Linked DNA regions of Homo sapiens. The protein of the gene in region 1 interacts with the protein of each later gene in a pairwise test. Each region holds a gene or a part of one and is shown in the gene's direction. Other genes may lie near its edges. The genes, in order: KRT33B, NF2, ARFIP1, SPRED1, HTT, ABI2 and CCT5.

Region 1 (4,098 bases):
TTCATAGTTCCATCTGGAATGCATGAGAGTAGAGCATCTGCTTGCCAAAATGTGCCAATGGTCATAAAATGCCACTTCATGCACATGACATAGTGGTGGATTTTCAGGGTCATATCCTTTGGAGAGCTAGGCTTGGGTATTTCTCCCTCAGATCAACCAAGGGTTTCCTTTTTTTTTTTTTTTCAAGCTTCTAGTGGGTATGAGGCATTTTCACTTAGTAAACTTCCTTCCTTCAGCATAGAAGTGACTTTTGGTTCTTTAATAAGTAAAAAACAGGCTTGTTATTTTTTGGCCCATTCTAATTTAGGATATTGTCAGCACTGATTGAGCTCAATGGAGCTCAATCTGTATTTTTTGCATTATTGCATCTCAGTACTGAAAAGATTGGAAGAGAGAGACATGTAATATGACAGAGTGTGGACATTGGAATTAGAGAGATCTGTATTTGAACCCTGGCTCCATCATGTAGGAGCTCTGTGACCTTGGGAGACCTCTCAGAGGCTTAGGGTCCTTATCTACAAACCCTTGCAGCATTTTGAGAGGACTGAAGGAGCTGGTGCATATGAGGTGCCTGGCACTGTGCCTGGTGCACAGTGGAGGCTCAGCAAGCAGGACCCATCACCAATGACAGAGTCACGCTGTGCACAGGCATGGAGCACAGTGCTTCATGCAGAGTAGGTGCTCCCAAAATTTAGGTTTCTTAATGTTCTGTGAACACTGAATACTAGTAGAAACGGAGGTGGGTGGCTTCCTGCAGCCCCATAGGAAGAGGGTAGAGTTGCCTCCATCTGCCTGGATGGAACTGCAAATGGGCCTTGAACCAATGGCCTTGTAAGTCCTTTCTCATTTCAGCTTCCAGGATTCCCTATCACATAGTCTAGTTTCTAGACGGGTTTCCTTACATGGCTTTTCTCACAGAGTCTTAATTGAATATGAACTGGATGAGACACAAGCCTTTCCTCATTTAGGAGAAAGAGGCACATATGTGCCCCCTACTCTGGGGACAGGGCCCAGCTGTCACTCTAGCTCAATGTCCCATGGATAAGCACTGCTACAGGCAAGGTTGGTCACTTTGAAGCCAAACCATGAAGCTCTTACTTAACCAATCAGCATGTTTTGTGAGGAGTCCTGACTTAGCAAGAAGCCAGAGTAAAACATTTAATGAGGTATAGGACTCAGGTGAAGTGGCTAAATAACAAATGGAAAAATCAGCAAAGGAGGTAAAAAGGAGGAATACTTGACATGGTTGCCACACCCACTGCTAACAGAATATAAAGCCCTGGAAAGGACCAAGGCTTATCCCAGGGAAAAGGAATCAGGTTTTGAAACTGACTTCCAGAGCTCCACTGCCTCCCTGCACCATGCCCTACAACTTCTGCCTGCCCAGCCTGAGCTGCCGCACCAGCTGCTCCTCCCGGCCCTGTGTGCCCCCCAGCTGCCACGGCTACACCCTGCCCGGGGCCTGCAACATCCCTGCCAATGTGAGCAACTGCAACTGGTTCTGCGAGGGCTCCTTCAATGGCAGCGAGAAGGAGACTATGCAGTTCCTGAACGACCGCCTGGCCAGCTACCTGGAGAAGGTGCGTCAGCTGGAGCGGGACAACGCGGAGCTGGAGAACCTCATCCGGGAGCGGTCTCAGCAGCAGGAGCCCTTGCTGTGCCCCAGCTACCAGTCCTACTTCAAGACCATTGAGGAGCTCCAGCAGAAGGTGAGGAGGTGGGCACCACACTGCCAGCTTAATGAACTACTTATCTATATTTGACATACTAAACTGTGAATGGATCTAAGTCTGTTCACAGTAATGCTGAGAATGATAAAGACATAGATTCACTGGCTTAGGTATGACATCAAGTAGTCTTAGAAAATCTGTTGTAGAGCCACAAAGGAAGGATGCAGGCTGGTGTTAGAGTGAAGCATTAGACCAAAATCAGTCATAGCAATCTTATATGGCGTCTTACTCCAAACCAGAATATCTGATTTTTTGGTTTGATTATGATACCCTGGTTTTGTTTTCAGAGCATTACCGCATTTTCAAAAAGTATGCACCTGAATTATTTTCTATGCTAAGAATTTCCTAAGTAAATCTTCAAATATTTAAAGCCTTTCAAAGCTGTAGCAAAATATAGCATTTATGGCAACACAAGAGAGCTGTTGACTCCAGCAATATCTACAGACACATGGACCATCCTCTAGAGCAGCCATGTGTACAGATGACAATATGGGGCCATCTGTTCTGGAAGAGAAGTAGATATAAGTAAAGAGTCCACAGAGAATTGGGACTGAATACCTGGTGTAGGTTTGGGAGGGATCCCAGAAGAGGCAATGTCTGAGTGGGGTTTGAAGGATGAGTGGGAGTTTATATCCAATTGTACAAGCCCTTGATTCTGGGAGGGAATTGACTGCCCACTGTTCTGTAGATCTGGAAAATTAGATGCCAGAAAGGGGTTGTGCTATTTGAATATCATTCATTTATTTACCCAGAGTTGGAGAGTGTTAGGCACAGTGCTGGGGTGGGGGATAATGTACTGAGTAAGACAGTCTCCTTCCTTCAGGAGCTCACAGTCTAACAGGGGAGATAGATGTGGAAACAAAATGATCACACAAAGGTCATAAGAAGTGTTATTGATTAAGTATGTGGGTTACACAAGGGGTCTTGCTAGTGGGTGAGGGCATTCTGGGTACAGCAAGAAGCTTTTTGCAAAGGCATGAACAAGGGCAATATGAGGGGAGAGTGGAGAGAAGTTAGCAGGTGGAATGTGTTGGATAACCAAGTTGTTCTGGCTTGCCTGGGATTTTTCCCATTTTAGCATCCCAGAAACCCCTCAGTCCTAAGTTAACTGGGATGGTTGGTCACCCAACCGAAGGGTTGGATACCCAGTAACCTAATTATTGCAGGAAGCCAGAAGCAGATAAGAATAGAATTCATGATGAATTCACATTGGTTGTCCTGGTTTTGAAATGATCAGTTTTATGATCAAATCCTCCTTTTATCTCAGAGCTGAAAATCTGAAAGGACTCAAAGCTATTTGGGAGGAATGTGGCTGAAAGAAAATAGCATTTCACTTTAAGGCACAAGGCATTTCTTAGTATAACCCATTTCATGATTAATCCTATCCCCAGATCCTGTGCAGCAAGTCTGAGAATGCCAGGCTGGTGGTGCAGATCGACAATGCCAAGCTGGCTGCAGATGACTTCAGAACCAAGTAAGATTTTCCTAACCATCAGAGCAGTCTAGTAACGGACAGGCTGAATTACAAAGTGATGAGCTCCCTATCCTGGAATGTGGAAGCAGAAATTTCTATTGGGAGGATTCTTGCATTGGGTTAGGATTAGGTTAAATGTCAAAGCCTCTTCAATAGGTGCTCAGATTCTGTGTTTTAAGTTTTTTTTTTTAATTTTTTTATTTTGAGATGGAGTCTCCCTCTCTCATCCAGGCTGGAGTGCAGTGATGCAATCTTGGCTCACTGCAACCTCCGCCTCCCGGATTCAAGTGATTTTCCTGCCTCAGCCTTCCTCGTAGCTGGGATTACAGGCATGCGCCAGCAGGCCCAGCTAATTTTTATATTTTTAGTGGAGACCGGGTTTTACCATGTTGGTCAGGCTGGTCTTGAACTCCTGACCTCAAGTGATCCACCCGCCTCAGCCTCCCAAACTGCTGGGATTACAGGCGTGAGCCACTGTGCGCAGCCCTGTGCTTTAAGTTTGATTGTAAGACACCATCCATTCTTACTCCTTTTCAACCCAACGTCTGGAGTAAGTTTGAAAGTGATTTTCACATTGGTCTCTTTGTATACGTTAGTCACTGTCAACCCCCCAAAAAGAAGTTATTAAACCACAAAAACAGGAGGCAAAATCCATTGCCTTTCAGAGAATCAATCAATACTTTTAGGTATGACCATTATTACAATCATGAGAATCCTTTGCATTTTCCTGGGATCTTACATTTTACAACATAATTTTACATATATCATCTTCAGTCCAACCCTATAAGGTGTTAGTTTTGTCTTCATTTTACAGTTAAGGAAATCAAGCCTCAGAGAGATAAAGGTATCTATCTACAGTCATTTAATGAGAATACTGGCTCTAACTCTGAATTC
Region 2 (3,500 bases), on another chromosome or scaffold:
TCCTCAGAATGGAATTGGATTAGTGACAGACTTGAGCAGCCGGTTCAGTCGAGAGAGAACTTAATTCCTCCTGTGTTATTCACACGGCTGATTCTAATCAGATGTGAAGAGACAGCTGGAGGAGAGCAGCGGGTCAGCCCATGCCTGGTGCGGAGGCTTCATGTTCTTGTAGGCATCTTCAGGGAACTGGCAGGAGCGCTTTGGGTTGGAGACTCTGAGCAGGGCCCTTGGGTTTATAGCCTGCCCAAGGAACTGGGCCTGGCTGCGGGACTCCCATGGTTGGACCTTGTCTAGATTCAGTGAAAGTTTTGAAGGACAGTGCATGACAGACGTCACTGGTCAGGTTCACCAGAGCTTGGCTCACTTGTCTTCAGAAGGATTCAAAGGCAGTTGACCAGACTTGGCAAGTCCCAGACTGGTGCAGCCACTGTCCTCGAGACCCTGGTTGTACACCCTGAGGTGCTTCTGCTTCATTACCTGCTGAAATTTGGAGACCTCTTCTTCCTGGATAACCTTCAAGATACTCATTGTGCATGCGAGGAATTCCCCGCCCTCCTGGGGGGACTCCACTCCCCAGGCAGGCAAGGTTGGGCAAGGGGAGGGCTGTTGCTGGATTGCCAAAGGGAGCATGGACATTTTTGTTTGGAATTCAGGGTGGGAATGGGACTCACCAGAGTGGCTTCAGTGCTCAACTCACAGTGCAACATAGGACAAGGTGAAGGCCTTCTTGGGAGGCCTCTTCTGGCTCTAGCAAGCAGGTGTTGCTGGGCAGTGTAGAGGGACCCAGGCCGGTTGCTGAGCAGGAAGATGTACCTAACACTGATGGGCCTGCACACCTTAGGGTATGAGAGCATCGCAGGGGAACCAGGAAACTTGTTAGCTGGTTTTCATGTGTTTAAAAAGAAGACTCGGAGGCAGAGTTTATTTTATGAAGGGCTAGCTTTTTGCCATTTCTTCTGAGCTTTTGCCTTTTCCTTTATGAATACTTCCTGCCTATGGGTGTACTGTAAATGTAACAGCCAGTGAGCTTTCTAGAAGCAGCAGATGGTGAAAGATCCACAGGTGAGGAGCCTGCCCACTGGAGGGGCGAGACAGTGCCCAGGCAGGGCGTGCAGGTGGCAGAGCTGTTTGCATGCTCCGCGGGGTGGCTTCCCAAGCTCTCTGTAGAAAAACTGCCTGAGGGCAAATGGCTCCACTGAGCTGCTACCTGCAGGAAAGAAGCTCAAGGGCTCTCCTCGTCTCACTGCCTGCCTTCTTCACCTGCTGGGAGGAGGGCATTGTGGTGTCTGAGATAAAGGATACCCCCAAGGTGGAAGCAGAGCCATGGGGGTGGCCTCCAGCAGCAGGGAGGAGCATTGTGCAGTAAATTCTGACTCCGGGGCTCCTGTGGGGATTGGAACCCATAGGAATTGCACAATGAGGGTAAAGGATGGGGCGGCAGCAGCCAGGTCTGTCTAAGGGGCGAGCAGCAGTGGCCGAAGGCTCCCAGGGCCCTCGGGCAGCAGCCCTTGCTGACCAGTGCAGCCAGGTCGTGGCTGCCTCCAGCTGGTGGGTCTGCCTTCCCCTCTGACCGCCTCAGTGCCTTCTGGAGGACTGTGGCTCTCTCTCCTGCCCAGTGGCTGTGGTGCCTTCCTACTTCTGTGTGGGCAGACTGATTTCCCTCTCTACCTTTACTTGTGGCTGAGGCGAAGCTCCTGCTCTTGCAAGATAAGAGGTGGGGCTGAGGCGCTGCAGTGCAGCTCAGGTGGGGCTCAGGAAGCACCCCACCCACCCCAGAGCACTCTGCATCCTAATAAGCACATGCTCGAGTCACTGGAATCTGGTGCTGCTGGCAGTGCCAGAACCCTCCCCTAGCACCTCGAGGGGACAGCCAGCATGCTCCTCGGGTGGAGGATCCAGGAATTCTTGGAGCCAACATTGCACAAATGGGCAGGAGCCTCTCAAGGCCCCCACAGCCTGGGCTCCCTGCCTGGGGAAGTGGCCAGGCTTCATAGGGGCATCACTTGGCCCGCCTGGTAGGCATGGAGGCCAGTGCCATACGTGACCTTGTTGTTGCCTGCACCCCTTCCTAACGAGCACCCTGCTCCCCACTGGAAGGAGAGGGGCCAGGGCTCCTCCCTCCCCAGGGAGGGGAGAAACGTGATGTTGCTATTAGCAATAACAGCTGCCGAGTTCCCACCATGCGCCAGGTGCAGTGTTGAGTGCATCACACGCGGTTCCCAATTCCTCTGCCTGTCACCCCACGAGGAAGGGGCTGCCATCACGCCCGCTTCACAGTGAGGAACTGAGGCTAGAGGGGAGCAAGTGACCTGCCCAGGGCCACACAGCTGGTCAGTGGCCCAGCTGGGCCTTGCACCAGGCAGCTGACTGTGCCTGTATCTGACTCAAAGTGGCTGTTCTTTTCAGAAACCTGAGCGGAGATACTGGGCTCACATGCTTTCATTTAAACCCTCTCTCATTTTTGCCCCAGTAGTTATCTGGCAGCTAAATCTCTTCCTCCTTTCTTCCCCAGTGACCATTCTGGTTCCCATCATCACAGGGCACATAACTCCTGGCCCTTCTCCTCTGATTACATTTAGGGAGAAGCCCATCCTGATGCAGCTCCCTTCTAGAGGGAGTTCCATTTAGGCAAAAAAGCGCTCTCCATTCCCATCAGAACCGGGCTTTCCAAAGGGCTCTGAAATTGGTTCCACTGAAGAAGGCAGCTGAGCTGCCTCCCCACATTCCGCTTGTTAGTCGGGAACTTCAAGGCCAAAAGATTTGGCAGGATTTAAAGAGTTGCTCTCAAGCTGTCTCATTCTGAGCACACTAATGCTGTCTGTCTTCTGATGGTGAAGTGGTGGGTTTGGAGTCTCCCTCCCCTGCCCTTTATGGAGCCGCCGATAGTACCGAGGACTCTTCACATGCAGACTCGAGGGGTCCAGAGAATGGGCCAGACCATCTTGCCTGCCCCATGGCAACCTCCAGAGGAAAGAGGCTCAGAGAGGTCAGGGGTGTCTGCAGTGAGCTGCTGATGGCAGAGAGTGAGCTCTCGGACCTTCTCAGCCGGGTGTGGAGCTCTTGCCTCTCCCGCGAACCTCAGTTTAGTTATCTTCATAGCCCACGTCCTGGTCGCTTAACAAACATTGAGCTCCTGATCGGCACATAACACTAAGCCAGATATTTGGGGGATATGAAGATGAATGGTACAGACTCCCTCCCCTCCACCCCCGCACTCCTGTGGGAAGTCCCGGAGCTGGAAATGGAACACAGTCACACCCAAGGCATTGATTTCAGGAGTCAGCAGAGAGCAGGGAGTAGGGAGAGTGCTGGCTCCAGATGCTTCTATCCAGGGAGATGCTGGGAAGTGGCCCAGAGTCAAGGGCTTAGGAGGTTGCAAACCTCACTATGCCAAGAGCTCGGTCCCTGATCCACCCCATCCCCTTCCACATCTCCCTGACTGTCCTTCTTTACATTTGCTGGGCAGAGTGCCACCTGTGTGCACCAGCCCTCCCTGCCTG
Region 3 (3,500 bases), on another chromosome or scaffold:
CACTTTTAGTGTACTCGACAGATTATCTCTGAGAAGCTAGGCCGTGGCTCAAGAACTGTGGACCTTGAACTTGAAGCTCAGATTGATATATTAAGGGATAACAAGAAAAAATATGAAAATATTTTAAAACTGGCTCAAACATTGTCGACCCAGCTTTTCCAGATGGTACATACCCAAAGGCAACTTGGAGATGCATTTGCTGACCTGAGTTTGAAGTCACTAGAACTTCATGTAAGATTATTCTAAATAACTATTAGGGATGGGAGAAAATGATAATAGAAGTATTCTAAGAGGTAATTTGTTATTGTGATTTGCTGAACTCTTAATGAAGATGGAATTCTGAGATTCTCTTTTAAGATATTTCATATCACTTTAAGAAGGCCCTCTTAAAGTGATATGACTTCTGTTAACTTTACTTTTTATGAATTATCATATGTATATAAATCTTTCATATTTTTCTTCCTGTTTGTTAATATTTTATTTTGCCTTTTACTCCTTAATCAATATCAAGGGTTACTGTTGTAATATGTTCTGTTAACTTTTTCTAAAAGTTGTAAAAATGTTGTTTTCTGTATTATTCTATTTCCAGTAACATTTATGTAGACTTCAGTGAAGTGTGTAACTTAGCTTGTGGAAATTTGGTGCCAAAAATCTTAAGCTGTCCTGCTTTTCATTTTAGTTTTTACATGCATTGATTGGTAATCTTTTTATGTGGTCCTTTATCTGCCAATATTTGCAACAAATCAAGGTCTATAATATTTTGAAGACTGAGTACAGAGTGGAGTTACATGGACATCTCTTAAATGGAAAATGGTTTTAGCATAATAAGGATAATTTTACTTTCCTGCTATTTTCTGAATTATTGAATACTTTGTCACCTAAGAAACGTAATTACAGCTATTGCAATAGCATTAAATTTGTATCTTCTAATATTTTAGTTAATTTAATATTACATTATTTGTTTCAACTGAAATTGAAAAGTGTTTTGTAACAAACTGGAGAATTATCAAATTAAATGATACATCTTAGAATATGTGATCGGTTTTTTATTTGGTTAGGTGCATCCTGATTAATCTGTTAATTAGTAAAACTTGCACTGGAAAGCTTTCACTGCTGAATATACAGAGCTAGAGTTAGTTCTTGCCATATCTGAAGGAGTCATGTGTAATGTTTACTGCACCAAGATGCAGTTTATTCAAAAAGAATGAACTAAAGCTGGTGTTGAGTGATCCTTCCTCAGTTGTGTGCCTAAATAGAGCTGAGCTTGGGAGTCAGCTAGTCACCAAGTTTACAAAGAAATATGTATTGTTAATATTTATACTTTGAGGAGAATCAGTCAAAACACAAAAAAAATGCACTTTGTTTTATGTCTGAAAGTTTTAACCAATTATTACCTAATTTGGCTGTGAAAGTTATAGTTTCTCTGATTAATAATCTGCTCTATTTTTCTTTCCAACAGCTGTGCTTATAGTATAATAGAAACAAAATGTAGAAATGAAAATATTGTTTCTACTACAAAGTAACTTAAAAAAATTATTTAGCTTTTAGGTATGTATCTGAGCTGATGACAATTTTGGTTTATTAGACTTTTTCAGTAATTATATGGCTAGCTGTGATTTCGATTCTTAAAGACGGAAAGGAAAAGTAAAACTGCTACAGCTAGATCTCTATCTAAATCACATATTTTCCCATTAGTGACGTGCTTGAGATTTTTAAGTCACTTTTACTGATTTATTACTGAATAAATTAAGGTGACTTCTTTGTTTTAGGAAGAATTTGGCTATAATGCCGATACCCAGAAACTGCTGGCTAAAAATGGAGAGACTCTTCTTGGGGCCATTAATTTTTTCATTGCTAGTGTGAACACTTTGGTGAATAAAACCATTGAAGATACATTAATGACTGTGAAACAGTATGAAAGTGCCAGGTAAGGTATACATTTTCACTGTGTTGTCTGTTTTACAGATGGCATATAATTCAGTTAATTTTTTGGTTACAAACAACAGAAACCAACTCTGGCCAATATGGGCAGGAAAAAAATGTACTGGAAAGTTATAGGATGCCTCTACAGACCTGGCAGAAAGGGAGAGAACAAGATTCTGGAAACAACCAAGAACCAAAGCCAAGTTAAGCCTCAGAAGAATCTAATTAGAACCCCTATGCTGGGTGCCTCTAGTACTTGATGCTGCCACAGCTACCATAAATAATTTCCTAAATACCCATGAATACTTGCTTCATTGCCTTGAGATTATCTAATTGAGCCTTGGTCATGTGCCCAAACCCTGCCTTCTAGTGAGTAGGGAAATGGAGGATCTCCCAGCTCTGGCTTCTTTAGAAGAGGACAGGGCCCTATGTTCTACCAGGTAGGTATTACATGGTCCTCTATACTCTCGCCTAAATTTACCTTTCATCCTTATTACCACTGCTTCCACAATAGCCAGACCCATACTTTCAGTTTCTATTGAATAAATAAGCTCATTTTGCCTCCATGATTTTTGTTTGTTAGGATATCAGTCATCTTCCATTTATCCAGATTATAACAAGCCTTCAAACCCTTTCAAATTTTACCTTTTATATAAATTAAATATTTGACTTGTATTTTGATAACTGTTCATAATGCAGTGTTTTTATACATCCTATTTTAATGGGTTTTTGTATATCCATATTCATATATATATGTATATATACAGTTTCCCTGTCTCATAACTATCCTGTTAAATGGTGAACAAAATATATATTAATAAATATATTAATAAATATTTTGAAGGGTCTAAAATATGGCAGACCTATAATAGCCTTTTTCACCTTTTGATTCCAGGCCCAATTTTTTCCCCATATGCCCTACCCCTTTTATTTAAGTATCATTCTAGTCCCTTTTGAGGTTTTTTTCTTTTGAGCACTCAAAATTCTTATTTTCCATTATACTTTTTATGCATAGTTGAAGATAAACTTTACCTTTTAGAAGGATAACTTTACTCTTTGGCCTCTTATCCTAGTTTAATGGTATGAGAAATACCTGTAAAAAACTCCAAACTCATCTAGTATTTTTGCAATTGAGTGCTTATTAAATATATATTTCCTTACACTTCAATTAAGTAAAAGCCCAAATCATTTTGAAAAGTTAATTTTTGATGTTTTCACAGGAAGAGATGCTTCTGTCCCATACCATGTTTATTTTGTCATTTTCCATTTAGTATTAAAGTATGAGATTCTTATTGACTTGAAAATGAAGGTCAAACAGCTGTGGTTGTATGGAGGGGTAAGGGTGAGGATAGCTGTTAGTAAGATAGCCTTCCGTGGAAATCTCTTCAATAACATTCTCAGTAATTGGTGTTTCAGTCTCAGTGTAAATCCTTTCATGGAAATTATATTTTTCAAAGGGTTCATTATGTATATGAATTTTAAAATTCATTTATATAAGTTTTACTTGATCCTTTTCTAAATTTTTCTGTTCCTTGTTCATAATGTCCTAATTTGTTCATAATGGTACTGTTTCTTTT
Region 4 (3,500 bases), on another chromosome or scaffold:
TACGTTTCAAAGTCCTGCTGATGCTAGGGCTTTTGATAGAGGTATCCGAAGAGCTATAGAGGATATTTCTCAAGGTAGGTATTCTTGACTATTTTCTTAATTTATTTATCGGTTATATATAGTAGAGGTTATCTTTCTTAAAGTTGACCCAAAGTAGTTTTCACACTTTAACCATGTCAGCTTTTGTGATATGTGACCAGGCTTTGAAACCTCACAATAGATGAAGATAAAATAATAGATTCCTTAACGTGATTTGTATTTGTCACATCATAGTCTATGTCAATTGCATGTATTATCTTGAAGAGTCCATCAACAGCTGACTTCAGATAATTCAAATGTTTTAAAATAAGAGCTTGAAGGAAGAGGGAATAGAAATGTACAGCTGCGAGAATCCCAGTTGGTATTCTACTTGTGTATGTATGACACCAGTCACATCCTTTTTTTGGGTAATTATATAGAACTTGTAATATTCAAATGTATGTAGACTCTAGTTATTCCATGACAAAAGTCTTTACTTGATTGATTTCATTATTGAGGATTGGCAGAGACCACAAGCTCATCTATTCCTTTGTTATCTTGCCAGTCTATTAAAATTATTAACTCAAAAGCATACAGGTTTTGAAGGGAAGAATAATGTTTTTTCATGTAAGACTGGCTTATGCTTACTTAAACAAAAATCACATTAAAACCCATTTCTTCCCATAAAGGAAGAACTAAGACTTGATTTTTTTTTCTAATTAGGAGGAAAATTATTTCAATTTAACTAACTTTCTATATAAAGTAACTGAAAGTGTGCTAGACTACGTTGTGATTTGTGTTATTTTGAAGATGTCATTTTAATAAGAAAATCTGAAAACATAAACTGTGAGACCAGTCACAGGCAAGAACATGGAAATACATTGTACAAATCTGTTTTGATAGTGCATAAAACTGTAGTTAAGTAATTTATTTAGCTACTTTAAAAGATTAGAATTTGGTAAATGAGTAATTTTTTATTCTGATCCAGAAAAAATTACTATGAAGTAATAGTAGCCATTTTGTCTTTATTGTAAGACCCCATAAATTCTCCTTAGATCAGTGTTCTTAACCTTGGCTACACATTAAAATCACCTGGGAAGCTTTTGAAGCTTAAAATGACTAGTCTGCACTCCAGACCAATTGAATCTATCTGGGGAATAGAGTCGAGTCATCCCTTATTTTTCAAAAACTCCAAGAAAGTTCAAATATGGTGAAGAATTGTTCTCTAGTCAAGGAATTGTAATTTGAATTTGAAGAAAAAAAAATAAGAAACTTAAAAAAAAAAATACATGATGTTCTGTGCCTCATTCCACAGAGATTCTGATATATTTTGGTTTGACGCCATACTCTGGCATCAGTGTATTTTTTGACAATTCCTCAGTTGATTCTAACCTTTAGCCAGGTTTGAAGAACCAGTGCTTTAAAGAGAGAGAAAAATAGTATCCATGGCTGCTGGAATTTATATGATTTAAAGTTTTGAATTACTTTTAAGTTTATGCTCATGTACCATAACAGTATACCTCTTTCACTAGGATCAAACAGATTGGGTTTAATGTTTTAAAAAATGATTTATAAGGAGTAGCTTACAAACTTCTAGGTAGAGTAGACTACAGTACTTAGTCTGCCTTGTTATTTTTGAACATTAAAAAACATTAGCTAGCATTATTATCAGCTGCTATATAGACTTTCAACAATCTCAAATTGCTTTTACTCGACCTTCTGTGACAAAAAGATAAAATATGCTGCTCTTTCCAAAGGGCGCATTTCTTCTTATCTCATGCCTACTCCGTGCTAAGCTGTGCCTCTCAAGGGTAGCATGAACTAAGAGTACTTTGCTAGGACAAATCCTTTCTTATTAATTTATTGAAACTAAAGGTACTCTTAACAGCATGAAAATCTGTACAGAGACGTTGATGCAAAAAAGTCAGTAACAACAATTGGCCATTAACTGTCAATAGTGGATTAAAACTCATTTGTTTTCCATCTTAGCTAAAGCAACTAAAATCCTGGTTATGGGTACTAAATACTGTTTCCTGGGTCAAAGCATTTAGAAAAATTGAATAAATCACATCTTAGCATCACCAGAGCAATGTAATTATAATCTGCCTAGTAATTTTGAGTATTTGGGAGAAACTAGGGGCAGGGGTAGCTAGAGATAGTATACTTTCAGAGAAAACATCTCGTTAGTAAGCAGCTGGAAATTTACCTATAGAGGAGGGAAATAATTACATTATTCTCCATTATTCTAACAGGGGCAAATGCAAGTGGCCAGTACCTTAATTGCCAGGCAGTCCAGAAAGATCTCTGATTAGTCTTCTAAAGTATTATAATGACATAATCAATTAGTCATTAATACTGGACTCTAAGACAAAAATTCTATACTTAATTAACTTTTATCTATTTTCTTAGGATGCCCCGAATCAAAAAATGAAGCTGAAGGGGCAGATGACTTACAAGTAAGTAATGGCTTGGAAGGAATTTGTAAACATAAAGGATGTGGAAGAAATCACTAGCCTTATTCAATAAACTTATCAATTACTAAGAATATTTCTAAGACACTCTATTTGTCAGATTTCTCCAGAAGAAAAGAACCAATACAGGTTGAGCATCCCTCATCTGAAAATTTAAAATCTGAAATGTTCCAAAATCTGAAACTTTTTTTCTTTTTGAGACAAGGTCTTGCTATGTTGCTCAAGCTGGTCTCGAACTCCTGGGCTGAAGCAACCCACCCACCTCCCCACAGTGCTGGGATCATAGGCCTGAGCCACCGTGCCTGGCCCCAAAATCCGAAACTTTTTGAGTATGGACATGACACCTCAAGTAGAAAAAATTTACACTTGACCTCATGTGATGAATCACACTAAAAATGCAGTCAGAATTTTGTTTCATGCACGAAATTATTTAAAATCATGTATAAAATTACCTTCAGCCTGTGTGTTATAAGGTGTATAAACATAAATTTCATCTTTAAATTGGGTACTATCCTTAAGATGTCTTATTATGCACATACAAATATTCTGAAATTTGAAACAGTTCTGGTTCCAAGCATTTCAGATAAGAGATATCAATCTTTATATAGAAAGTAAAGTTTCTGGGGTTTTTTTTTTCTTTTTTAAGGAAGTGGTTCATAAGATTGTGGGCTGGGTTGGCAGAATGGGCAGGCACGCTGAAAATTGGCACAAGTTGATGTTGCAGTCATGAGAAGGCCGAATTCTATTTTCTTCAGAGGACCTCAATCTTTTTTCTTATGCCTTTCAACTAATTGCGTGAGGTCACCCACATTATGGAGGATGCCTAACTGCCATATTAAAAGGACATTCAAGCAACACTGTGTAGATATTCATGTGGTGAGGAACTGAAGCGTTCAGACAATAGCCATATTAGTGAACCACCTTGGAAGCAGGTTATTCAGCTCCAAGCAAGCCTTAATAGATGACCAGTTGTGGCATGTTTTCATTGCAACCTTATGAGGAACCCTGAGC
Region 5 (3,500 bases), on another chromosome or scaffold:
AGCTTCATGTCGACCTTTTTGCCATAATTTTTATATAGCCTTTTTTGTTTTTAAATGGTAATTTAGAAAGTCAACTAGGAAAATGTGTTACAGGTTTATCTTCCAGGAGAATAGGACTGGAGTCGAGATCTTGAATGTGGCTTGGAAGAAGGCAAGCCCACCCCAGAGAGATGAGTTGACAGTTGTTTCTGACCACTGCTTGCTTAGAGGGCCTGCGTGTCTGTGACCGCCTAGCTTTGCGCCCCTGACTAGGCTGCCCCTTAATTACAAATGTCTTTATATATTGCTCCAGCTAAGGCTTGGAGTAGTCGGTTAAGAACTTGAACTTCGGTTTTTGCAGTGAAACAGCATTTGAGAATATCACCTTCTGATAAGCCTTATTTTATAAGGTGGGTACTGTAGTGGGAGGCAGTGTGAGAGATGCTTGAAGGATGCACTGCTGTCCTGCATTTCAGCATCTTCAGGATGCTGTGCAGCTGAAACATTTGATAACGGTGGAACTGTTCGTTATTTTGCAAGCCTGTGATTCCCTATTGAATGTTTTCTCTCGCCATTTGACAAATGAGTGTTTCTCTGTCTTCAGCCTCAGTGAAGGATGAGATCAGTGGAGAGCTGGCTGCTTCTTCAGGGGTTTCCACTCCAGGGTCAGCAGGTCATGACATCATCACAGAACAGCCACGGTCACAGCACACACTGCAGGCGGACTCAGTGGATCTGGCCAGCTGTGACTTGACAAGCTCTGCCACTGATGGGGATGAGGAGGATATCTTGAGCCACAGCTCCAGCCAGGTCAGCGCCGTCCCATCTGACCCTGCCATGGACCTGAATGATGGGACCCAGGCCTCGTCGCCCATCAGCGACAGCTCCCAGACCACCACCGAAGGGCCTGATTCAGCTGTTACCCCTTCAGACAGTTCTGAAATTGTAAGTGGGCAGAGGGGCCTGACATCTTTTTTTTTATTTTTTATTTGAGACAGAGTCTCACTCCATAGTGCAGTGGAGGCCGGGCACAGGGGCTCATGCCTGTAATCCCAGCACTTTGGGAGACTGAGGCAGGCGGATCACTTGAGGTCAGGAGTTCGAGACCAGCCTGGCCAACATGGTGAAACCCTGTCTCTACTAAAAATACAAAAATTAGTTGGGCGTGGTGGCACATGTCTGTAGTCCCAGCTGTTAGGGAGGCTGAGGCAGGAGAATTGCTTGAGCCTGGGAGGCAGAGGTTGCAATGAGCCGAGATCGTGACACTGCACTCCAGCCCGGGCAACAGAGCAAGACTCCATTTCAAAAAAAATAAAAAAATAAAGTGCAGTGGCTCGTTCTCAGCCCACTGCAACTTCTGCCTCCCAGGCTCGAGCGATTCTCCCGCCTCAGCCTCCTGAGTAGGTGGGATTACAGGTGGGCACCACCACACTCAGCTAATGTTTGTATTTTCAGTAGAGACAGGGTTTCACCATGTTGGCCAGGCTGGTCTCAAACTCCTGACCTTAGATGATCCACCCACCTTGGCCTCCTAAAGTATTGGGATTATAGTTGTGAGCCACCATGCCCGGCCCTGCCACCTGCCATCTTTTGAGTTCTTCCCTGGAGACCTAGACCTGAACCCTCCTGCTTGTTCTCTTGTTATCTAATACCCCTATTGACAGCGCAGCTTAGATCATTAATGGAGAGCTTGACCTCATCTGATACCTTCACTGAAGGAAACAACTTAGTGTCTTTTGTGTTGAACACTGAGGTAAAAAATTGGAATAGTTGATTATATGAACTCTGCTAAAATTGAGTGCATTTTACATTTTTTAAGGCCTTGTTGGGCCCTGGTTAAATAATTATTTTTAAAAATCCTTAAGGAGCCTATTATAAACAGATCTGTGGTCTTAATGAAATGTGATTAATACTGTGCATTATTTTAAGAACTTTTGACTTTTCAAAAAACTTTTACAACATTTCCCATTTGATAGCGGCATAGGTTTAAGCACTTCTCATCTCTAAGTTAGTGGACAAAAAACCCTCATGGATAGTCTAATAATGTTTGCTACAAGTCCATGTTGAGTTTTATACTCCATTTTATTTTCAGTTTTAAAAACTGTGGTTAAATATGTGTAACATAAAATTTATGTTCTTAACCATTTTTTGCGTATACAGTTCGCTGGTATTAAATACATTTAAATAATGTCATGGAATCATTGCTACCACCCATCTCTGTAACCTTTTGATCATGTAACACTGAAGCTCTGTTCCCATTGAACTCTATTCCTCCTTTCCCGCCAAGTCCCTGGCAACCACGATTCTTCTTTCTGTCTTCTGAATTTGACTACTTTGGGTTCTCATATACTTTAGGAGTCACACAGTATTTGTTTTACTTAGCATAATGTCCCCAAAGCTCATGCATGTTGTAGCCTATGTTAGAACTTCCTAATGTTTCAGGCCAAATACTATTCCATTGTATGGATAGGCCACATTTTGCTTTTCCATTCCTCTGTCCATGGACACTTGTATTGCTTCATGTTTTAGCCATTGTGAATCATGCTGTTATGAACGTGGGTGTACAGATAGCTCCTGGAGACTCTGCTTTCCATTTTTTTGGCTAAATACCCAGAAATGGAGTTGCTTTTACATTCCAATTTTAATTTAAAACATTCATATCATTGAGTGTTTTACTTAATAGTATAGTAGTTAACAAACTTAATAAAATAGTATTTTGGTAATAATTTGCTGGTAGTCCATTGTTCAGTTTTTTTAGGTAAATTACACAGGACATTTCAAGTGGACATGAAACATCTTGTGATGTGGAATCATGCCCCAAGCTGATGGCTAAACATATGAAATACCATACCCTAAATTTAGTAGATTTAGTCTTTGCAATTTAGGAGATAACCTGTTATATTGTTAGGTTTTTGTCGAAAAGCTTTGTCCTCATATTTCCAACTTGCTGTAAAATTTGTTTGTGAAGACAAATATTTTTGTATGGGTTTTTTCTTTTTCATATTAAAAAGAAATGTCCACATTGGAATTTTTTTGGAGTTTTTAGAGCTAATAGAGCTTTTCATAATGTAGTGGGAATGAGTGATCAGTAAGCTCTTAGCAGTTTCCATGCGTGCATTTCTGTGCCTTGAAATAAATGACAGATGAGTACATTTGTGTTCTGTGTGTAAAATGTGCTCTTTCCTCATTGCACTTCCATGTTGGAGGGCTTGTCTCTTGGTGATCACACTTCAAAATTCTCACAGCCCCCCTTGAACCGTTTAGGTGTTAGACGGTACCGACAACCAGTATTTGGGCCTGCAGATTGGACAGCCCCAGGATGAAGATGAGGAAGCCACAGGTATTCTTCCTGATGAAGCCTCGGAGGCCTTCAGGAACTCTTCCATGGGTATGTGGACTACAGGTGATGCGCTACAAAGTGGTTTGTATTCAGACCTGGACATCTTAATTATATCTTTGCTTCCAAGAAGAAGTCCTTTGATACTGTTTTCTGAGTTCTGAATAGCTGATGAAAATGACCA
Region 6 (3,500 bases), on another chromosome or scaffold:
TCCAAGGGGGATGGTGTTAAACCATGAGAAACCGCCCTTGTGATCCAGTCACCTCCCCCTAGGCCCCACCTCCAACATTGGGGATTACAATTCAACATGAGATTTGGGCAGGGACACAGATTCAAAGCATATCAATCACCGTAGTGTTCCACTTGCCAGTGAAGAACTTCATGGCATTTATATTCAGCTTTGCTGTTATACATGTTAAACATATATAAGATCTTTACATGTTTTAAAAGACACTTTTAGCCAAAATGGATTTTGGGTGATGTCTTGTGGGATTCCTTCTATATGACTTTTAAAGAAAAGCTTTCTGCAGTAGATAAATGTAAACATGGGGTGTTTTTTGATCCAGATACAACTGTTAGGCCAAACTAACTAGTTAAATATAGGAATCTCGTTATGCTCCTGCTTTGATAAAGAATGCATCAGAAAGGACAAATCACCCCCAACTGAGAGTCTATGTTTTAGTAATTAAATATTAATTGAATAACAGGTGCCTGGCTCAGTGTTCACTAAATAAACATTTGTTATGTGAGGGGATAATTAACTGTGGTTTTTAAAACAAAAAGCAAGGTAAATGTCTTATTAATAATTTATATCAGGATAGTCTGTTTTATACAGTACCTGAGTTACCAAGCAATTGTTTTTCTTTTTACCAAGGTATAACTTATGTACAGTAAAATTCACCCTTTATACCATATATGTTTGTGAGTTTTGGCAAAGGTGTACTGACATGTAATTGCCACCACAATCAAGTTACAGAACAGTCCTATCATCGCAAAAATTTCCTCCATGCCCCCTTTATAGTCAGTCCTTCCCTTCCACTCCCAGCTCCTGGTAAGCCCTTGATGTGTTTTTTTTCTCTAAAGTTGTGCCTTTTTAAGTATAACATAAATGAAAGCATATAGTATGTAGCTTTTTTGATCTGTTTTTTTTGGCCAGATGCATTTGAGAATTACCCATGTTGTTGCATGTTTAAGTATTTCATTACATTTTATTGCTTAGTAGTGTTGTATTGTATGGGGATGTACCACAATTTGTTTATCCCTTTCTCAGAGGACATTTAGATTTTTCTAGTTTTGAGTGCTTATGAATAAAGTTGCTATAAACATGTACATACAGGGTTTTTTTTGTGCACATGGGTTTTTATATCAGGTAAATACCTAGGGAATAGAATTGCTGGGTTATATTGTAAGTAAATTTTTAACGTCATAAGAAACTGCCAAGTTGTTTTCCAAAATGGCTGTATAATTTTACACTCCCAGCAGCAATGTGTGAGTTTCCAGTTGCATCCTTGTCAGCCCTTGGTGTTGCCTTTTTTAGCTTTAGCCATTCCAATACATGTGTAATGGTTTCTCATTACATGTGTGGTTTGGATTTGCATTTTCTTAATGACTAATGATATTGAACATTTTTTTCATGTGCTTATTTGCCATGTGTATATCCTCTTTGGTGAAGTATCTGTTCAAATGTTTTGTTCCTTCTCACCTTTTTAATAGGGTTTTTTTCCTTATCATTGAGTTCTTTTATATTCTAAATATATGTCCTTTATAGATTATGAGTTACAAATATTTTCTTCCATTTTGTGATTCGTTTGCTTATTTTCTATTTTTTTGGCGGGGGGAGGAGGGGCGGGCGGACAGAGTTTCACTCTTGGTGTCCAGGCTGGAGTGCAATGGCAGGATCTCAGCTCACTGCAATCTCCGCCTCGCGGGTTCAAGCGATTCTCCTGCCCAGCCTCCCAAATAGCTGGGATTACAGGCACCCACCACCATGCCCAGCTAATTTTTGTATTTTTAGTAGAGACGGGGTTTCACCACGTTGGCCAGGTTGGTCTTGAACTCCTGACCTCAGGTGATCCGCCCGCCTCAGCCTCCCAAAGTGCTGGGATTACAGGCGTGAGCCACTGGGTCCAGCCTGTTCATTTATTTTTTTGATGTTGTATTTCAAATAGCAGAAATTCTTCATTTTTATTAAGTGTTATTTTTCAAAATTTTTTTAAATGAATCGTGCTTTGATGGCATATCTAAGAACTCTTTACCTGAAGTCATAAAGATTTTGTTCTGTGTTTTCTTCTAGAAGTTTTTAGTTTCAGGTTTTATCGCTAGGTTTATGATAATTAGGTATATATATTTTTAAAACCCCAAATGGTAAATCGACTCATTAATAGTGTGAATAGTGTCTTTTTTTTTTTTTTTTTTTTTTTTTTTTGAGACAGAGTCTCACTCTGTCACCCAGGCTGGAATACAGTGGCAATCTCGGCCCACTGCAATCTCCGCTGCCTGGATTCAAGTGATTCTCCTGCCGTAGCCTCCTGAGGAGCTGGGATTACAAGTGTGAGCCACCACACCCAGCTAATTTTTTGTATTTTTAATGGAGACAAAGTTTCACCGTGTTGGTCAGGCTGGTCTTGAACTCCTGATCTGAAATGATCCACCCGCCTCCACCTCCCATAGTACTGTGATTAAAGGCCTGAGCCACCATGCCCAGCCCATGTGAGGTTTTAGACTAGATCTAACTATATAAAATTCATAATGATGTTAATCCAGATGTTTTTAACTTGATCGTAGGTTTGTATTAGTTTGCTATAGATTAATTACTGAAATGCTAATTGTATTCAGTGGTTCAAATAACTAAATATGCCTTTTAAATCATAGTTTATATGTTTTCATTTTTATCATGGTTACAGAGGCTTCTCAGTTGATAGTGGATTATGTTTAAGCTTGAGTGCTTAAGTTTTTGATACACATGTAAGATGTTTAAATGTTATAACAAGCCTTGAGTGCTCTTATAATCCTTATATGACTCCATATGAATCTAAGCTTGGTAAACTTTCAGCTCCTGTAGAACAATTTTAGTCATATAAAACCATTTTATAATCATAGACAAGATGAAAAATTGTCAAAGTGTTGTTTTCCTCTAATACTTTTAATTAAAATTACCAAGAAGATAGTCTCATATTAAGGTAGAATAAAGATGGTAAGACTCAGCTGAGAAATATGAAGCCTGGAAGAGGATATGACTGCAGTGTTTGATCATGAAGATTTCAACAAATCAAGCATTCATCAAATTCCATATTACATAAGTCTTATCTCACTGTGTTTCAAGTAGTTTATTTTAGAATTTAAAAAATTTCAGGATAACCTTAGGCACAAATGGATAGATGAGTGTGCCAGGTATCATCTGTTCCTCCAGTCCCCCCTCCTCTACTCTCCCCTCTTCTCCAGTAGGCTGACCTCCATGAAATGTTTCAGTGGATTCTTTTGCCCTCTGGCTTCCTGTTGGGTTTAGCAAAAGTGTTTTTTTTTTCCTTTTCACTTATCTCCTCCTTTTCTCCCTTTCTCTTTCTCCTTTCCTTTCCCCTCTGCTATCCTCTTGCCCTCCTCCACCTTCATCTCCTCCTCCTCTACCTTCCTGTCCCCTTTCCGCTTTCTTCTCCACCTGCTTATTTCTCCGCCTCCTCTTCTCTCTTGCCCTCCCCTTCTCCCTTGTCTGCT
Region 7 (3,500 bases), on another chromosome or scaffold:
ATTGGGGGTGGGTTCCACTTTTTATTCAGCAAATTGCCGATCCAAAATTATAATTTAGTAAAGAGAGTCTTGAAAGCGACTTGTCTCTGGTGTTTTCAGCGTTCGTGTAATGTCCGTTTGCCAGGCTTACTGCCAGGTCTTATGGGCACTAAGACACAGCTCTTCTCCCAGGAGACTCTAAGCAACCTCAGCCAAGGGGTGCGCTGATTATGTACAATGCCAAAGACTTAAGGTCTGTTGCCGTAATATAACATAAAAATCCAGTGTAAGCTGCTTTATTACATTATATTAAATCAGTGAGAGATGTTTTCAATTGTGTGCTTGTGGTGGTTTTAGCAAAAAGGAATGAGGGATCTTCTAAACTCAGAGTAGTCAGGGAAAATGCAGGAAAAGTGTCTGCTTCTGTTGCCTTTTCCCCTGAGCAAAGCCTATGTTAGAGCAGAAGCCTTCAGCAATGCCTGCTGTCCTCCTCTAACCACAGATCTCAGCAGAGACTAGCTCCCTAGGCAAGAGTGAGTACCCTAGGGGTAGCCTCTTGTCACAAGTATAACACTTATTTTCTCATGAAAGGAGGACATCATCATTACTTGAAGTGTACAAATCAGTTTTCTTGTTGCTTTATAAGTTGGCCTTGTTCTGTTTGCAAGTATTAAGTCATCTACTTAAGATACAACATGTTTACTTTCATGGTTCTCTTTTATAGATAACCTGTGATTTCAGACATTATTTCAAGTGCTAGGTTTCCCTAGTTGTTTTTCTTGGCTCAAAAATTAATTTATTGAACTGTCTATTCACATGTTTCAAAGCTTTCAAAAAGGTAACACCCTCCATCTATAATGGATGTTGTGGTGAATTCTTGGAAAGTTTAAATGCCCTGTCCAGTCCTTTCAGTTCCTGGTTAGTGCTACACTTCATTGAGATAAGAGTGACTCTTCCTGAGTGATTACTTACCTTTCCCATTCTGTTCTGAACTTGTAAAATAGTAACAGTATTCTGTAAAAGTGCTGCATTCTAAGAAGACCTTAATTCATGCCAGACTACAGTGGTTTCTTGAGTACATTCATAATGGAAGGAAATAGTAAATTTCAGAGTTAGCGAAAATAAAGATGTAATTTTTTCCTATCTAAGTATACAGTCCCCTTTAGGGCCCATGGATCACAGGTTAAGAATCTGCCCCAGACTGTTGAAAATGCAGGTTGAGATGGCATTCCCCTCTAGAAGACTCAAAACATCGTTTGATTTATATCTTTGAGTAACATTGTGTTATGTGGCCTGCTTTGGTTGCAGTAATTGTGAAACCAATGAAGTTTGTTTTGTGGTGTTTTCCTCAGGGTCAACAGTTGTCACCGACAGATGGCTGAGATTGCTGTGAATGCCGTCCTCACTGTAGCAGATATGGAGCGGAGAGACGTTGACTTTGAGCTTATCAAAGTAGAAGGCAAAGTGGGCGGCAGGCTGGAGGACACTAAACTGATTAAGGGCGTGATTGTGGACAAGGATTTCAGTCACCCACAGATGCCAAAAGTGAGCCATTGCATCTCACAGCTTCGCACTGTTGGTTAACTCTTAATTCCACCAATTAAAATGTCTTTATGTTCCCCCATAGAAAGTGGAAGATGCGAAGATTGCAATTCTCACATGTCCATTTGAACCACCCAAACCAAAAACAAAGCATAAGCTGGATGTGACCTCTGTCGAAGATTATAAAGCCCTTCAGAAATACGAAAAGGAGAAATTTGAAGAGATGATTCAACAAGTAAGTCTTACCAGAGTCCTCAGTGGAATTTAAACTCCCAAAGGGTACAGTTAGTTAGGTTTGGTTAGTAAATATGTGTAGTCTTTCTTCAGTTCTAAAACATACACAGGAAAAAACCAAATTGCATAGAAAGGCATAAACAGGGAAGAATTCTAATTTTGTCTTAAAATGGTAGCGTGTTCAGGCCAGGTGCAGTGGCCATGCCTATAATCCCAGCACTTTGGGAGGCTAAGGCAGGCAGATCGTGAGATCATCGAGACCATCTGACTAACACGGTGAAACGCCATTTCTACTAAAAACACAAAAAATTAGCCAGGCATGGTGGCAGGCACCTATAGTCCTAGCTACTCAGGAGGCTGAGACAGGAGAATCGCTTGAACCCAGGAGGCAGAGGTTGCAGTGAGCTGAGCTTGCACCACTACACTCCAGCCTGGGCGACAGAGCAAGACTCTGTCTCAAAAAAAATGGTAGTGTGTTCAGGGTCCTGAAAGAAGTGACCCTGTTACCTAAAGCCGTGCTTTCAATTGTACATATTATATTTGCCGTCCTGGACAAATTTAACTTAGCTTACCTTGCCTTTAAGATTTCTGACTATACCTTTTAGGCAAGAGTTAATGAGTAACTGGAGTTAAACCAGAATGCACTCATAGTAATCCCAGTTCTTTGCTCAGTTAAGTCTAGTTTGGGTTCATGAATACCTTAGCGTAGGTGTGCTTTCTCTCTGACATAGCAACTCCTCTTTGGGGGCTGCGTCCTTGGGAGTTGAAAACACCAGTACTCAAGAAGACAGGAACGTGGGTTGGTTAGGGTATTATTTATCATAGCAAACCAACTAGAGACTATTTTCATGTCTGTTCTTGGGAAAGTTGTTGAATGTACTCATTGATGATACGGTTCTTGGTGCCTACGACATACCAGGCTCTGTTGTAGGCACTAAAGGTACAGCAGGGAATGAAGCCAAGCTCGTGCTCTTGAGACACAGATAAGAGAAAGGTGGGTACAGCTCCATTACAGACACTGGTCAGAGAGGTGACCTGTAAGGAGAGGCCAACATAGGGTGAGAGCAGTGCCCCTGGGGGAGGAGCATTCCAGGCTGAGGACAGATGGGGATGCTCCTGAGCCAGGAACATTGTTGGCTTGTACAAGGAAGAGCCAGCCTCAGGGATTGAAGCATGCTGGCGGGAGCTTATAAATAAAAGGCCATCATCTGGGCCGGTGGGACAGTTTTCATGAGAATGGTGCCTCAGCTGTGCTGGGGGGCCACAGATAAATTGAGAGGCCAGGGATGTTACTGGATCGTGCTGGTGAGGCGCAGGTTGCTGAGAATGAGAAGGGAATGACGATGGGGCTAGATAGTAAAATGTTAAAGAATGAGAGGCAGGGACCCAAAGAGGAACACTGCAGGTGACTGAGGAGCAAGAAGGACCCTCTCCTGTTCTGAGCATGTGAGAGGGAAAGCAGCTGCCATCTGAGGAGGGTTGCAGGGGCAGGTTGGTTTTCCGGGGTTGTGACGGAGAGATTGTATAAGGAGGCTGCTGTTCTGGACTGAGTTCCAGAGGGTCAGGGAAGGAAGAGAGGGAGAGCCAGGCAGTAGCAGGTAGCCTGGGAGGCCTGATGGAGACAGGTAAGCCAGAGTTGTGGGGCACGGTGTGGCAGTCCCAGGTGAGCACCAGAGGTGGGGTGGGCAGCCTGATCGTTGCCCTCCTAATTGGGAAAAGTGACTTTGCCATTTGCAGGTCGGGGT

What was found.
Region 2: the proteins of KRT33B (region 1) and NF2 interact in binary tests that used the Homo sapiens proteins (3 or more experiments, as listed by UniProt).
Region 3: the proteins of KRT33B (region 1) and ARFIP1 interact in binary tests that used the Homo sapiens proteins (3 or more experiments, as listed by UniProt).
Region 4: the proteins of KRT33B (region 1) and SPRED1 interact in binary tests that used the Homo sapiens proteins (3 or more experiments, as listed by UniProt).
Region 5: the proteins of KRT33B (region 1) and HTT interact in binary tests that used the Homo sapiens proteins (3 or more experiments, as listed by UniProt).
Region 6: the proteins of KRT33B (region 1) and ABI2 interact in binary tests that used the Homo sapiens proteins (3 or more experiments, as listed by UniProt).
Region 7: the proteins of KRT33B (region 1) and CCT5 interact in binary tests that used the Homo sapiens proteins (3 or more experiments, as listed by UniProt).

What each region holds. Positions count from the first base shown.
Region 1 is NC_000017.11:41,367,014-41,371,111, reverse strand, and holds the start of KRT33B (keratin, type I cuticular Ha3-II), read left to right. Parts: upstream 1-1,298; 5' UTR 1,299-1,361; coding exon 1,362-1,709; intron 1,710-3,121; coding exon 3,122-3,204; intron 3,205-4,098.
Region 2 is NC_000022.11:29,690,633-29,694,132, forward strand, and holds part of NF2 (merlin), read left to right. Parts: intron 1-3,500. UniProt on the Homo sapiens protein: Probable regulator of the Hippo/SWH (Sav/Wts/Hpo) signaling pathway, a signaling pathway that plays a pivotal role in tumor suppression by restricting proliferation and promoting apoptosis.
Region 3 is NC_000004.12:152,880,954-152,884,453, forward strand, and holds part of ARFIP1 (arfaptin-1), read left to right. Parts: intron 1-9; coding exon 10-231; intron 232-1,769; coding exon 1,770-1,927; intron 1,928-3,500. UniProt on the Homo sapiens protein: Plays a role in controlling biogenesis of secretory granules at the trans-Golgi network. Mechanistically, binds ARF-GTP at the neck of a growing secretory granule precursor and forms a protective scaffold.
Region 4 is NC_000015.10:38,322,336-38,325,835, forward strand, and holds part of SPRED1 (sprouty-related, EVH1 domain-containing protein 1), read left to right. Parts: coding exon 1-74; intron 75-2,427; coding exon 2,428-2,474; intron 2,475-3,500. UniProt on the Homo sapiens protein: Tyrosine kinase substrate that inhibits growth-factor-mediated activation of MAP kinase. Negatively regulates hematopoiesis of bone marrow.
Region 5 is NC_000004.12:3,126,681-3,130,180, forward strand, and holds part of HTT (huntingtin), read left to right. Parts: intron 1-583; coding exon 584-924; intron 925-3,243; coding exon 3,244-3,367; intron 3,368-3,500.
Region 6 is NC_000002.12:203,397,894-203,401,393, forward strand, and holds part of ABI2 (abl interactor 2), read left to right. Parts: intron 1-3,500. UniProt on the Homo sapiens protein: Regulator of actin cytoskeleton dynamics underlying cell motility and adhesion. Functions as a component of the WAVE complex, which activates actin nucleating machinery Arp2/3 to drive lamellipodia formation.
Region 7 is NC_000005.10:10,256,780-10,260,279, forward strand, and holds part of CCT5 (T-complex protein 1 subunit epsilon), read left to right. Parts: intron 1-1,331; coding exon 1,332-1,524; intron 1,525-1,606; coding exon 1,607-1,756; intron 1,757-3,500. UniProt on the Homo sapiens protein: Component of the chaperonin-containing T-complex (TRiC), a molecular chaperone complex that assists the folding of actin, tubulin and other proteins upon ATP hydrolysis.